Linked DNA regions of Homo sapiens: region 1 is linked to region 2. The links come from fine-mapping of genetic effects on gene expression. Tissue or cell type: whole blood. Region 2 holds a variant in brackets; the other region holds the start of a gene. All regions are shown on one strand. Distances are between the middles of the regions.

Evidence for each region. PIP is the estimated chance that this variant, and not a neighbour inherited with it, causes the effect.
Region 1: it holds the start of UBE2N, and the variant in region 2 is fine-mapped to the expression of UBE2N in whole blood (TOPMed, PIP 0.99).

The regions. Positions count from the first base shown.
Region 1 is chr12:93,437,937-93,446,031 of GRCh38, forward strand. UBE2N (ubiquitin conjugating enzyme E2 N) reads right to left here and starts at 4,011. Exons shown (of 4, transcript NM_003348.4): 1 at 3,919-4,011. The coding sequence starts at 3,948. RefSeq lists silencers at 3,227-3,346, 3,377-3,516, 3,667-3,876, 3,957-4,416 and an enhancer at 3,909-4,546.
Region 2 is chr12:93,467,044-93,475,148 of GRCh38, forward strand. MRPL42 (mitochondrial ribosomal protein L42) reads left to right here and starts at 471. Exons shown (of 6, transcript NM_014050.4): 1 at 471-511; 2 at 2,149-2,312. The coding sequence starts at 2,243. RefSeq lists enhancers at 303-362, 423-692. The variant G/A (reference allele first, on the strand shown) is at 4,413.

The DNA of each region.
Region 1 (8,095 bases), 29 kb before region 2:
AAGCAGAGTAGGCACACAAAAAAGAAATAATGTAAAAGATTGATGTCCTTTTTAAGTGAGCTTATGGGTGGAAAACGAGACTAGCTTTAACTTTTAGCTCAGACATTGGTTCAGACAGAATATACCAAGGAGTAACAATGTCAAATTATTGCTCATTGAGATTAAGGCTCATCTATTCAGTTAGTCTATTAATATTTCAGTATCTACTATGTGCCAAGGATTGGTCTAGGCACGAATGAGCAATGCCCGGGATATCCAAGAGTCCCTAACTTCATGAAGGTTTAATGGGGAATAGAGAGAAATAAACAGTAAATAACATAACTTCGAACAGTAATAAGCACTTATACAGAAGAAAGGGAGATAGGAGGATAAAATTGTGGGGGAGGAAAAAGGGAAACTGGTTTATACGGGACAGGTTAGGTAGAGGGTATGACATATGAGCTAAGAACGGAACAACTGGACAAAGCAAGCAATGCAACAAACTGGAGGAAAGTCCTGTGACTGGAATAAGCTCAACCACTTATTGTTCAGGGTACAGCAAAGCAACAGTGTGGCTACAGTGGAGTGACCCAGAGAGAGAAGTGCAGATGCGCTCAGAAGTAGGCATCCCAAATGAATGCAGGGCCTTATAGCTAAGGGGTGGGGGGGAAGGCAAGATTCTAATGTAAGTGTGATGGAGAACCTCTACAGTTTTTAGCAGGGGAGTAACATGGTCTATATTTTAAGAAGATAACACTAGCTGCTGCTCCAAAGTAGGCTAATACAGGAGGCCAGGCAGTAAATGATGGAAGTGAACAGAGGTTTGAAAGACAGGGGGGAAAGTGTCTGATTTAGTACATATATTGAAAGCAGAACCTACAGAATTTGCTACTGGATTAGATACAGGAATCTAAATGAGATAGCAACTGGGTGAATAGTAGTCCAGAAAATCATCTTGTATTTGTAGTTAGTCATTTTACAGTAACAAGAGACAGGGGAATGTTACACTAATCAAGATCCAAATTCTGCCTCTTACCAGCTTTACCTTAGGAAAGTCATTTAAGTCAGTTTCTAGACTGCAAAATATATTGTCTAGTTCACAAAAATGTCTGTAAGAATCAAATGGTTAAGAAATCTACAAATGTAAATAGTGATCATTATAAGTTAGAAAGCATCATATTAACAGTCATGCAAATCAAGCCACCTTATTTTAACATTTTCATTAGATGAGAATGCTAACACTGATGTTATATCAACACTAAATTTCATCCTTTGAAAGTCAAAGGTCAGGCGGGGCACAGTGGCTCACGCCTGTGATCCCAGCACTGTGGGAGGCTGAAATGGGTGGATTGTGTGAGGTCAAGAGTTTGAGACCAGCCTGGGCAACATGGCGAAACCCCGTCCCTACAAAAATTAGCTGGGTGTGGTGGCATGCACCTTGCAGTCCCAGCTATTGAAGAGGCTTAAGTGGGAGGATCATCTAAGACCAGGAGATCAAGGCTGTGGTAAGCCATGATCCTGCCACTGCACTGCAGCCTGGGAGCGGAGTGAGACGAGTCTCAAGAAAAGAAAACAGAAAGAAAAGAAGAAAGTCAAAGATCACCCAGAAATAAAACAAATTAACAGTCCAATCAACAAAGTCATGTCCCTATTGCCTCAGGACAATACCGTTACCCCCATCCACCACACAGAAGTTTGTATAGTGATTGACAGAAAAGAGGCAACTTTTAAAAATAAATTCTGATTTTTTTTAAAGCATTGTCACTGATTATGGAACAACCTACATAACACAAGCATGGACACTTTTAAAAATCTAGTCTTTTAGTCTTCTGTTTAAGGATTAGAGAAAACCATCCTTTTAAGCTATAAATGACACTAAACTAGTAAGATAAAACCCAAATCAAGGTGTCATTCATTAGATAGATGTTGTCAACAAGATACCGTAAAATTAAGATTATATATCACAGTATGAGTTACTGTCTTAGTTTCAACAGCAAAATGTAAATGCCCAGTGTAAATTACTGTGTGCCAAATGGATTGAATCATGAGGACTTCAACTTATTGCCTTAAACCATTTCTGTAAATTTATAAACAAGGTTCCACAGAATTTATTTTTTCATCCAAGGCTTTCATATTACTGGGCATATCTTCATAATCAAAAATAGAAAAATGCGTGTTAAATGTTTAGTTCACTATGTATTTCAGAGAATTATCATGAATGTCAACTTGCATTATGTACTTAGTCAATAACCTAAGTAACAACGAAAACAAGGATATTTGATGTATGGCTCTATCACTCCCTATTCATTTTTCAACTGGGGCCTCAATAAACATGACCTTTGGGGACCATGTGACTGCATTATAACTAAAACCACGTTGTACGGACCTGCCAATACATATGACAATTAAAACTCCTTGGACAGAATCCTAGATAAATCCACACACAACAAATTTCGGACTATGAAGATTCACATTATTAGACTCCAGTGCTCCCTGACAATCTGTTCTACTTCTCTCATTTCTAAGAATTTCTACCATACAAAAACGTCTTATTTCTCTACATCAGCACCCTTAGGTCAGTGACATCTCCCTCATCTCAGATATATTTAAATGCAATTGGATGAAGCAGTATACAGTACATCATCCTCGAAGCCTAACAGGTCTTCCACTTAGTATGCATCTCCCCACAGATTTCACAAGAATGAGCAAGATTAACATACACGTTCACCAGGTTATATCAAGCAAAATGATGCTGCAATTGAGTCACTTTAACTGGCGCATTTAGTCACATAAATGTGCAACTAATTTCCTTCATAAAAACCGACACAAAAATTTAAGGTTTAGTTGTTGTGATGACAAGGAATATCTCACGTCTGAAGACTTGTCGATATTTCCTTAAGACTTTACAAAATCAAAGAATCGAAAATGTCATGGTTCCATACATACTTGTCAAAACACAGTATTCATAAACAGCCAATTAATAATTAAAACGCACAAAATTGAGGGGCAAAAGATTTCACGAGATCCCCCACAGAGGCCAAGGTAGGAAGATCTCTGAAGCCAGGAGTTTTGGAAGCCGCCTGGGCACTATAGCGAGGCCTCATATCTACGAAAAAGAGAGGAGAGGAGAGAAGAGGAGAGAGAAAGAGAATCCCCCATAACTGCGGCCCTCCCCCAGCCTTGTGTTAAAACTATTTCCTCGGAACAGCTCTGAAAGAGTTTGCCAACCAGAGTAAAATCACTTCGCAGAGATAAACGAGCGGAAACGTATTCAGAAGAGAGAGATCGCGGAAGCAAGGGCAGCGGGGCGCGGGGCCCCCACGTCCCGGGACCCAGGCAGCCGCGGCAACCAGGGGCGAGCATGTGCTGACCGCGGCAGGACGCGCGGGCCTCCCAGAGCCACTTCCCGGGGCGCAGGGCCCCGCCCGGCCTGACCCTCCCGGTTCATTCATTCTGCACCCGCGGTTGCCGCACCTCCGCGGCCCCGTCGGGGCGGAGAAGAGGGGCTTGGCTGCCGAGGGACCTTGTCGGGCCACAATCCCCACCAGGCGCCCGAGCCCCGCCGCGATTCCCGCGCGCCCGCGGCCTCCGGCGGGGGGGTGGTCTCAGAAGCTATGGAGGCCCGCGCCCAAGCCCAGAGACCCCCAGCCTTGCCGCCCCACCCTCCGCCGGGGCGTGGGACAGCACTCCCTGGCCCGCCGGGCAGCCGCCTGGAAGCCCCGGGTCCCCGCTGTCCGGCTGCCCCGCCGCGGCCGGAAGTCTCCCCGGCGCCCCCTCCTCAGCACCCGACTTCCCTCGCCGCCGCGGCCAACCCCTCTCCGCGCCGCCTCGGGCCTCCCAGAGCGGGCCGCGGGCCGAAGGAGGCGAGAGGCCGCGCTGCCTGCCCAGCTGAGCCGACGAGAGCAGAGCGAAGAGCTGGAGGCCGGCCTGGGCGGTTACCTTGATGATCCTGCGGGGCAGCCCGGCCATCTTGTCAGAACCCGAGTTCGGCCTCTGGTCTCGTCTCCGGCTCCTCTCGCCTCACGCACGAGTGGAAGTCCCGGGCTCCACTTCCGGGGGACGTTGCCGCGCCCGTCGCCGCAGCCGCCGCCGAGGCCCCTCGGGAAATGTAGTCCCTGCTCGGGCGCGGGCTCGGGCACGGGCGGGCTTCCCTCCGACCTGGCCCCCTCCCCCGTGCGCCCCGCCCCAACCGCTGCCGGGGATGGCGGAAGTGACGCTCTGTTGCGGGGCAGGGACTTGGGACAGGCCGCGAGGGGAGGCGCGGGGCTCTGGCGCTCGTGGCCGAGCCTGCCCGCGACGGTGGTACGGCACGACCCGCGCGCGACTGCGCGCGCGTCTCTCTTAACCGTGGCCACGCCCGCGCCGGTGGACGACGTAACAGAGGCCTGGCCTACGACGTATCCCATTCATTCATTCACGCGTTCGTTCTTTCAGCTCACGCGTTCGTTCTTTCAGCTCAGCCTGCATTGCGCGCGTTCCCTGCTGGCTCTGCAGTGAACGACTGAGGTGGGGCTCATCGTCTTGCTCCTTCCTCAAAGGGAGGGCAAGACCGAAACTCGGTGGCAAAGCTCTGACTGGGGGTCTCTCCAGTTACTCACACGCTGTTGGGGGAGTTTTGATGTTTAAATTGTATAAATCGGACCTCTGACACGCCCCTAGGCCCAGGGTAGGCTGAAGGAAAAGGGTTTGGAGCGAGTTGGAGGCGGGAAGAATGGTTCTGAACGCCTAGACCTAAAGGTTGAGACTCAGAATTGTTAACAGGACGAATGACCAAGGAGAGGTTTAAAGAACCCAGAGTAATCCGTAAAGCAGAGATTACCTATAGAGTGCGAGGTCCTATGAGAGAATTAGAGTGGGGGTGCCCGAAAATTGAATTGTTGGGGAAGCGTTTTATCCTGATGACGGATGGTTTGCTGTGTGATGGACTGTTTGCAAGCACTTTACTTCATCTTCACAGCAATCGTGAGGAGGTGTTGTTTCCATTTTACAAATGAGGCTTAGATAGTTAACCTTTTCCAAGGAGCTGTTTTGTCCCCAGGCAGATCCGCCAAGACCTGGCCCTTAACTACTTAACCACAGTGTTTCCTAGCACACTAACAGACAGTAGATGGTGAATAAATGAAGACAAGACTGACCGTGCCTTCCAGGAACTTAGATTCCAATGGAGAAGAGAGACCAGTAAACAATTAGTTACAATCCAATGTGTTAAGGGCTGTCTGTAATACAGGTTCCTCCAAGGTGCTATTTTAGCAGAGAGGCATTAACTGCTTGAGAACTCAGGGAAGCCTTCTTAAATAAGTGAAGTCCTCAATGATGAGTAAGAACCTACCTGACCTTGTAGGGAAGAGTATGCCAAGCATAGGAAATGGCCTGTGAAATGGCATTGAGCTATGAGAGAGAAAAAATAGTGCACTAAAGAAACTGGAACTCTGAATACAAGAAACCTACTAAGAACAATAAGAAATATTTTGTGCTGGCACGATGCTAAATGGTTAATAAATTTAATACATCATTCAATTATGAAACAGATGAAGTAGTCTCTATTATTAACAGAACGTTTTAGATGAGAAGCCAAGGTTCAGAGGTAATAATGAGAATTTCAAATAACCAGAAGTCTGCAATAGGTGGTTCTGTGACTAGAAGAATCTGCAAAAGTAAATGAAACTGGACAAAGATACTTTTCAGAATATTTTATAGAGGACCCAGGATAATTCATGCTGGTAGGCAGAAAGGCAGAGTGCTATTGTGTTGGGAGTGTGTAGGTCTGCAGTCTGGGCAGGGCTTGGCAGGAAGGCACACTCTGCTTGTGCTGCATCAGCCTGTGCAACCAGAAGATTGGCTTCCATGATGGTTCACAAGGCGGGCAAGTTGGTGCTGGCTGTTAGTTTCACTCCAAGTGGGCCTCTCCCTGGGGCATCTTGGGCTTCCCCATTGCATGGTGGCTGGGCTCCAAGAGTAAGTGTTCTAGCAAGCTGAAATGGACACTAAATCGCCTTTTTTGACCCAGCCGTGGAAATCACATGGCCTCGTGGAAGTCAAATGGCATCACAATAACCATAATCCATCAGTCAATCAGCCACAAAACTCACCCTGTCTCAAGGGGCAGGGAACATGGACACCACCTCTTGAAAGGGGAGCTGCAAGACTCTAGGAACTAGCAGCATATATGTGATGGAAAGTATGGTTGTGGCCAATTTTGGGAAAGAAACTGCCACATGTACAATATTTGTCAGAGTATGCTTACCAGCCACCCGCCTTGGAATCATCTAGGGCACTGTTTTTTGTTTTGTTTTGTTTTGTTTTAAAAAAAGCATTCCTGCAGCTGGAGCCCTTCCCCCAGGGATTCTAATTCTCTAGGTCAGTGCTGAGACCTGGGAATCTGCATTTAAACATCAGGGGTAATTTTGATGGATACTAACACTTGAAGACAAAAAATTCTGAACAAACGAGAACAAAAAAAACAATAAGCAAAACAAAAAGAGGTGCCAGGTGCTTTTTTTTTTTATGTTTTTGAGACAGAGTCTCTCACTGTCACCCAAGCTGGAGTGCAGTGACATGATCTCGGCTCACTGCAACCTCTCCCTCTGAGATTCAAGCAGTTCTTCTGCCTCAGCCTCCAGAGTAGCTGAGATTACAGGCGTGTGCCACTGCCCCCTGCTAATTTTTGTATTTTTAGTAGAGATGGAGTTTCACCATGTTGGCTAAGCTGGTCTTCAATTCCTGGCCTCAAGTGATCCTCCTGCCTCGGCCTTCCAAAATTCTGGGATTACAGGTGTGAGTCACTCCACCTGGCCTCCTTTTGTCTATCTTCTATTAGAACAGACAATAAGTATCATTTAGGTTAAGAGTGAGAGCTCTGGAGCCCCCAGTCGGGGTTTGAAAACACACTTTGCTTAATTTCTCTGTCCTTTGTTTTCTTCACCTATTAAATATACTTACCTTCATGTGGTTGTTGGGAAGTTTAAATGATGTAATTTGTATAAGGTACTTAGAACAGTACACAGCACTTAGCAATCACTTATTTTTTGTAATTTGATAGAACCATGTGTAGTTTTCTTTAGGAAACCAGATTTTTAAAACTTGATAGTATAACCTTGTTTGGTAGAGATTGCTTTGATGGCATAAAATTCTCTGAGAGTATTAACACTTTAACATATACATTTTTCCTGTCTCTCCAAATTGTTTTTTCTGTTTTCTTCCCCTCTTGAGGACAGCTCGCACTAAACTCATCTGGAAACGAAAATCTGAACTTCCGATTCATATAAATCCTGTGGAACAGGATATACTCTAGAAGAACAGGTTGTCACAGGGCTGAGATACGGTTCTCAAATTAGAGGGCTAGTTAAGAATCCTATTTACTCTAATACAGAGATAGACAACAAAACAGTGGTTACCTGGAGCAGGTTGTGGGGTGGAGTGATGGAGAATCAGAGATGTAGATCAGAGGGTACAAAGTAGCAGATATTTAGGACAAGTCTAGAGAGTTAATGTACATGAGAACAAGCCTAGAGAGCTAATGTATATGAGAGCTATAGGTAATAAGTTTACGCTATGTATGAGATTCATGCTAAATAAGTAGATTTTAGCTACTGTTGTCACAAAAACATAGGTAACTATGTGAGACGATGGATATGTTAATTTGCTTCACAATAGTAACCTATTTACTATTGATACGACATATTCCATAACATCATGTTGTATACCTTCAATATAAACAATAAAATAATTTTATTTGGCCACGCACAGTAGCTCACCCCTATAACTCCAGCACTTTGGGAGGCTGAGGCAGGTGGATCACTCAAGGTCAGGAGTTGGAGACCAGCCTGACCAACACGGTGAAACCCTGTCTCTACTAAAAATACAAAATTAGCTGGGTGTGGTGGTGCATGCATGTAATCTCAGCTACTTGGGAGACTGAGACAGGAGAATCGCTTAAACCTGGGAGGCAGAGTTTGCAGTTAGCCGAGATGGCACCATTGCACTCCAGCCTGGACAACAAGAGCTAAACTAGGCCTCAAAAAATAAATAAAATAAAATAAAATGTTTTGAGGCAAGGTCTCACTTGTTGCCCAGTCTGGAGTGCAGTGGTGCAAACATGGCTTACTGCAGCCTCAGC
Region 2 (8,105 bases):
TTTGGGACGCCGAGGCAGGAGGATTGCTTGAGACAAGCCTGGGCAACATACCGAGACCTCGTCTCTACAAAAATATTAAAAAATTAGCTGGGTGTGGTGGTGTGCGCCTGTAGTACCAGCTACTCAGGAGGCTGAGGTGGGAGGCTCTCTTGGGCCCAGGAGGTAGAGGCTGCAGTGAGCCGTGAGGGAGCCATTGCACTCCAGTCTGGGTGACAGAATGAGACTGCCTCACAAAAAAAAAAAAAAAAAAAAGCTTGTTACTTTCTAAGGGTATGTGTTTGGGGCAGTGATTTTGTTTTTCTGGGCACCTTAGTAACACTGCGGCCACGCTTCCCCAACTAAAGGTAAAAGTCCATAGCAACAATCCTCCCTTTCTCTCTGCACCCGGGCCGCTTTCCCGCGGAGACTACATTTCCCAGAATGCCCCGCGGGCTGGGACGGCGCGCGCAGCGCTGTTTCGTGGGACCAGGATTGAAACAAGATGGCGGGTTCGTGGTGAGAAGCCGTCAAGGTAACCGCTTCCCTCTACTCCTCCTGTCGAGGACTTCCTCGAAACTGGGCAGTCCCACAGTGTTGGTCGGCAGTTGTAGAGGTCTCCCGCCTGTCGTTCCCGGCAGGGCGAGGTTGCCTGCATCCCCAGCCTTTGTCCTTCCTGCAGAAGAGCCGGCATGTGGCTGCGCGTTTCTTATAGCGCCCCCTTTGTTCCCTGGCGGACGCCCGTGGGGAGGTGATGCAGCTTGTGGCTCTAGGGACTCCTTTAGGTCGAAGAGTTCTGGTGCTCTTGGTAGCCTGTTCCTCAAACCTCTGACCCTCAGAGGCTCTGTAGCTTTTGTTTTGGGGTTGAATTCCGGGCTGAGGGACTTGATCTCTGAAATGATCTTCCTGGGGTGAATAATCTGACTCCCAGCAGGGCGTGCTTTTCTCTGGGCTTCGGACAGAGGGGACCTAATTTCCCCCAAGATGTTTTATTCGTGGTCAGAAGTCATGGGTTTACGTCCCACGCATGTATTAAGCAGCGATATACTGAGCAAGTAATCGATTGACCTCTCTGAGCCTTTGTTCTTAATCTGAAATGGAGATGCTGCTTCACACACTTGTGAAAGTCAGAGCACATATTGTATATGAAAGTGGGTTGTAAACTAAAAAGCACACCTATGAGCTCAGGGTTAACGGTGTTAATGTACTGGCAGTGCAAGGTATCAGTGTGAGTGGTTTAGACTAGCAAATAAGAGGGCCTGTGTCCTAATTCTCTTTTATCACTATTGGGGGGAAGGGCACGGATACTCATTGAAGACTATTAAAAACAAGATTTAACAATGGTTATTTGTCATTTATTCACAACAGGCCATGAAGATTGTGGTTTTCCCCATTTTGTCATTGGAGAAACTGAGGATCGTTTAGTTAATGACTTGTTTAAAGTTTCCCAATTTGGCAGTGACTGACTCTAAAGTCCTTGGAAGCAAGACGTTTAAATTTTGTACTTTAGTTTCTTCATGAATCAGAATAAAGATACCTCACATGATTAATACGAGAGCAAAATGAAATGGTGGTGAAAGTACGTTGGAAAGTTAAAGACTTTGTACACATATAAGATGGTGAAATTTTATCTGGGACTTGAGGGCATTTATGAGTTCCTCCAATTGAGTAATAGGCTAAGGATAGGCCTTGTTTGATATTTCTTTATTATTATTATTATTATTAATGGCTCAGGGCAGACAACTATTTCATTTAATCAGAAACAGGATAGTACTGTAAATGATGTAGTATCTTGTGTATGGAACCTTGGAGGGTGTACACAGCCACACTAGCATTAAAAGAATGAATACTCTGTGTACCATTTGTGAGTGACTGTTTCAAGAGTAATTACACATTTACTGAGTATTCATTAAGTGGAAGGAGCTGCACTGGGTCCTGCAGAGAAGTTTGTATCTAAGATAAATAGTAATGGACATAGTTCCAGTGGTTCTGATCTTATATTCTGTCCATGTCGCTCTTCGTCCTGTTGTTCAATCATGTGGAATTGCCAAGTTGTTTAAAAGCATTGCTTCAGTTGACTTCTAGGCAGTGATTCTTACCTTGTTCTTGTGGTGTTTAATATAACTTAAATTTACCATAGGTAGCACTGATTTTTCTTTATCTCTTCAGCAGGAGTAGAAATTGGTATGCTTAGAAGCAGATTCTAAAAGCAGTTTCTCTTCAGAACATCTTTTTTCATACCACTTGATAAGCATCTTGAAACACCATGGCTGTAGCTGCAGTAAAATGGGTGATGTCAAAGAGAACTATCTTGAAACATTTATTTCCAGTCCAAAGTAAGTGAAATTTTTTTTAATGTTTAAAAACTTTTAAACTTTTAAGAATTAAGAAAATTTAAAGCATTTAGTTATTGTATATGCCTGTAATTTGCAGGAGTGTTTGCAGCAATGGAAAGTGGGAGAAAACCTAAATGTCAGTCAGAAGGGGAATGGATAGGTCAGATGTGGTGTCTCATGCCTGTAATCCCAGCACTTTGGGAGGCTGAGGTGGGAGGATTGCTTGAGGCCAGGGGTTTGAGACCAGCCTGGGCAACATAGCAAGACCCCCACCTCTAAAAAAAAATGTGGGTTGGGGAGGGGAATGGATAAATTATGGTACATCTGAACTGTGACTGTCATGTAGCTGTTACTGACATGGAAAGATCTCCAAATAGAAACAAAAAAAGCATGTCAGAACCACATCTATATATATCTATCATATGATCTTATTTGTATGTTTAAAAGATGATCCATCATATGCATGTGTGCATATGCATAAATGCAGAGGTAAAAGGTCTGGACCAAACAGTGGTTATCTGTGTAGCCCACTCTTGGGATTTGGCTGAGGGCAGGAGTAAGGGACTGGTCAAGGGTAACTTTCTCTTGTTCGATTACATGTATTACTTTTTTAGTATTTCTCTCTTTTTTTTTTTTTTAACGGAGTCTGGCTCTGTCGCCCAGGCTGGAGTGCAGTGGCGTGATTACTTTTTTAGTATTTCTTAAAATGTGCGAATAAAGGGTAAATTCACAGTCCCATCTTCCAAAGATAATCATTGTTAATATTTTGGTGGATTGTCATTGTGTTTTTTCTATGTACCTAGCCATTTTTAAAAAAATGAAATGTAATTTCTGCCTTTCTTTTCTAAAGAACTGTATATAGTTAGTATTTTCTCGAAAGCTTGTTAATACATGTTTGACAGTCAAAGCATGGACCCAAATAAGTAAATAGAGTATTAAAGTCTTTTTTCTCAGCCAACTGTGCTTTCTTTTTCCTTTTCCTGTCTGTAAACAGAGTTTATAGCTCTTATAAACAGCTCTTATAGGAAGCTTTCCATTTCTAAAGTAGACATGTATAGAAGGCAACAGTAGGTTTGCCTTTTTATATTAAACTATGTGAGCCAACTTTTTATTTTTATTTTTTATTTTAGATTCGGGCGTACATGTGCAGGTTTGTTACGTGGATGTATTACATATACTGAGGTTTGGGCTTCAACTGAACCCGTCACCCAAATAGTGAACATAGTACCCAATAGGTAGTTTTTCAACTCTTCCCTCCATCCCTCCATTCTGTTTTGAGTCCCCAGTGTTTATTGTTCCCATCTTTGTGTCCATATGTACCCAATGTTTACCTCCTACTTGTAAGTTAGAACATGTAGTATTTGGCTGTTTTTGCATTAATTCACTTAGGATAATGGCCTCCAGCTGCATCTGTGTTGCTGTAAAGGACATGATTTTATTTGTTTTAATGTCTGTGTAATAATCCATGGTATGCATATACACCACATATTCTTCCAGTCCACCATTGATGGGCTTGTTTCCATGTCTTCGCTATTGTGAATAGTGCTCTGATAAACATGCAAGTGCAGCTGACTTTTTAAATACAACTCTGCTTGACCTTGACCTTTGTCTCTTCTTTCTTATTTCCTATTTACCACCATTTGTAATTGAAAGTTTGCTTATTGAATTAGGGAGAAAAGAGCTATTTGAAGAATGGAGTATAAGTAAAGTAATAAATAGGCAATTTGTTATGCTTGAGACGAGGAAAATATTTTACTCAGTAAACACCTTTGTTGAATAGAATGCTCAAAAGTTTGCCAGATCCTACTCTATTTTATTTTATTTTATTTTTTGAGACTGGATCTTGCTCCCAGGCTGGAGTGCAGAGGCATGATCTTGGCACACTGCAACTTCTGCCTCCCAGGTTCAAGTGATTCTCCTGCCTCAGCCTCCCGAGTAGCTGGGATTATAGGCACCTACCACCAGGCCTGGTTAATATTTGTATTTTTAGTAGAGGTAAAGTTTCACCATGTTGGCCAGGCTGGTCTCGAACTCCCAACCTTAAATGATCCTCCTGCCTTGGCCTCCCGAAGTGCTGAGATTACAGGTGTGAGCCATTGC[G/A]CCTGGCCTAATTTTTGTATTTTTAGCAGGGGAGGGGTTTCACCATGTTGGCCAAAACTGGTCTCAAACTCCTGACCTCAAGTGATCTGCCCACCTCAGCCTCCGAGAGTGCTGGGATTATAGGCATGAGCCACCGCACCTGGCCACCAAATCCTGCTCTTATAGGAAGCTTTCCATCCCTGCTTCCTTGCTTGCCCCACTCTCCCATTTTTTAGGGCCCTAAACATAGAAACATTTATTACATTATATTCAAAGTAAAATCAACTTAGAATTCAGTAAATAGAACAGGACATTGCTTAAGAGACTTTGGATATAAACCAAAATAAGTCACAACAAAACTGCAATCAGCTTTTGATTATCTAGGAGCATTTTTGTTGTTGAGAATTGGGAGAAAGACCCTTACTCTTACTTCTTAGATTCCTCTTTGCCTTGCAGGAACCCAGCTCCTAGGCTAATGAGAAGTCACATCCAATCAGTTTTTACATAGACTATGTTTTGAAACAATTAGTCCTCACACAGGCCCATCAGAAAACCAGTTAATGTGTCCCTGAATAATTGAAAATTATTTATATATCTTTTTCCCCACTGGATTTCCCACTAAGTTTGTACTGGATCTAATTCATTTTGGTGTCCCTGGGGCCTCTCATTCATGATAGGAGATCTATCAGTGTTTGTTCAAGTAATCTGAATGGTTTAGAGTTAACTCTCAAAATATCTAGTTAACTAAGAATTAGGTTACCCTAGAAAATCATTCCATTATCAGTTATCCTAATACTCAGTGACCTAACTTCTTATATCCGAAAAGTCCCTTATACTGCAAAGTTCCTGTTGCTACTATTATTGAAAGTAAAGGGCTGGGCAGGGTGGCTCACACCTGTAATACCAGCACTTTGGCAGGCTGAAGCAGGCTCTGAAGTTTGAGACCAGGCTGGGCAACATAGGAAACCTCATTTCTACAAAAGTTACAAAAATTAGCTGGGCGAGGTGGTACACGCCTGTGGTCCCAGGAGGGAGCCAGCTTACTCAGGAGGCTGAGGTAGGAAGATTGCTTGAGCCCAGGAGTTCGAGGCTGTGATTGTGCCATTGTACTCCAGCCTGGGAGACAGAGTGAGACCCTGTCTCAAAAATAAAAAATTAAAATTAAAGAAAGTTTCATTACTGTTATTATTGATGTTTAATAAAAAAGGGAAGGACAGTAAGATTGGAGGCAAAGCGAAATCATGATTAAGGAAGAAAGTTCAGTGAGCAAAAATAAAAAGCCTTCCTTATATTCTAGAAGGAATATTTTAAAATTTCCCAAATGGTCAGTCAGCCCGGGAGTGTAGAACACTTCACAGTTTTCAAAGCATGTTAAGCCATTTGATCCTTATAACAGCTTTGATTTTGGTAGCCCATGTAGTATTATCCTCTTTATGAAGGTAAAGAAACTTGAGTTCTGTGGCCCTCATAAGTTCACCCAGGGTCACATATTTGGTAAACAAAAACTGTGACCAAAATCTGGATCTCCCACCTTACTTTGTCCTGTATACTTTCTACTGTACTTCCTTTTCTGTAGCAAGGTAAAATACTGAGCATTTGAAGATGGGACAACTTTTAGCTTTCATAGCTCTTTCAAAATGCAATTAAATATATATATGTAACAAGAATAACTCATAAATTACAGAAATTATTGTTAATTGAAATTCTTTTGGCACATTGAGCTTAATTGCTGTTAACTTTGGCATTGGTCCTAATTATATATTTAGAGCTTCTGCTACTTCTATATCCAGAATTACTTCCATTGGTAAAATATCAGGTAATGAATGTTTCCTTATTTTTTTTTCAAGGTGAAGTCTCACTCTGTTGCCCAGGCTGGAGTGCAGTGGTGCAGTCTTGGCCCACTGCAGCTTCGACCTCCCTGGGCTCAGGTGATCCTGCTATCTCAGTCTCCCAAGTAAGCAAGACTACAGATGTGTACTACCATGTCTGGTTATTTATTTATTTATTTATTTTTGAGATGGAGTTTCACTCTTGTTGCCCAGGCTGGAGTGCAATGGCATGATCTTGGCCCACTGCAACCTCCGCCTCCCAGATTCAAGTGATTTTCCTGCCTCAGCCTCCCAAGTAGCTGGGATTATAGGCATGTACCACCATGCCCGGCTAATTTTGTATTTTTAGTAGAGATGGGGTTCCACCATGTTGATCAGGCTGGTCTCGATCTCCTGACCTCAGGTGATCTACCCACCTCAGCCTCCCAAAGTGCTGGGATTACAGACGTGAGCCACTACGCTTGGCCTATGTTTTGTATTTCTTTGTAGAGATGGAGTTTTGCCATGTTGCCCAGGCTGGTCTTGAACTCCTGGGTTCAAGTGATCCACCTGCCTCAGCCTCCCAAAGTTCTGGTATTACAGGCGTGAGCCACCATGCCCAGTCCTTATGAATTTTTCAAACATCAGTTATGCAGAAACATTTGAGAGGCAGTTCGGCAATCACTTTTTAATGTGTAGGCACTATAGGGGACACAGTAATGAACAAGGTACAGTTCCTGGCCTTAAGGAACTTATTTAGACTTGTAGGTGAAACAGACATCTAGCAACACTAAGAATGCCCAGAATATGAGGCAGAATGTGATAAGTGTGTCATGAGGGCACAAACAAATGTCTGTGTAAACACAGAGTAGAAATTTTACTGAGTTTCTTGTTAACTAAAATACTGTTGTCTTGAGTTTTCTTGTCTGCATATTTCAGAACACTTAATTCTGTCACCCAGTCATGTTTCTTTCAGTGAAAATGTATATCATCTAGTTGGTTTATATTCAGAGATACAAAATTGTTTTTTTTTAATTTATATTTTTTATTATTAATTTTTTTTTAATAGAGATGGGGTCTCACTATATGACCCAACTATGTTGCCCAGGCTGGTCTTGAACTGCTGGATCAAGCGATCCTGCTGCCTTGGCCTCGCAAAGCGCTGAGATTACAGGAGTGAGCCACCACACCCCACCAGTTTTAATTTTTTTAGAAACGATTTTGCTCTGTTGCCCAGGCTAGAATTCAGTGGCACAATCATAGTTCATTGCAGCCTCACCCTCCTAGGTTCAAGTGATCCTTCAGCTTCAGCCACCTGAGTAGCTGGGATTATAGGTGCATGCCACCATGCCCAGTTAATTTTTAAAAATAGTTTTTAAAGATAATATCTCACTGTGTTGCCCAGGCTGGTCTCAAACTCCTGGCCTTGAGCAGTGTTGGCCTCCCAAAGTGTTGAGATTACAGGCGTGAGCTACCATGCCTAGCTTTATAAACTTCTTTTAATATTAACCCAATCCATGCATAATTAGGAAGGTCCCAGTGATGTCAAACAAGAAAATAAAATATGGCCAGGTGCAGTGGCTCACACTGGTAATCCCAGCACTTTGGGAGGCCAAGGCGGGCTGGGCTGATCACCCAAGGTCAGGAGTTCAGGACCAGCCTGGCCAATATAGTGAAACCCTGTCTCTACCAAAAATACAAAAATTAGCCGGACATGGTGGGCGCCTGTAATCTCAGCTACTCGAGGGACTGAGGTAGGAGAATTGCTTGAACATGGGAGGCGGAGGTTGCAATGAGCTGAGATAGACAACTCTTTCTTCTGTGAAGAACCTTGGGGGCAGGGAGAGTAAAAAGGATTTCATGGAAGAAGAGTGTTTGACCTTTTTTTTTTTGAGATGAAGTCTCA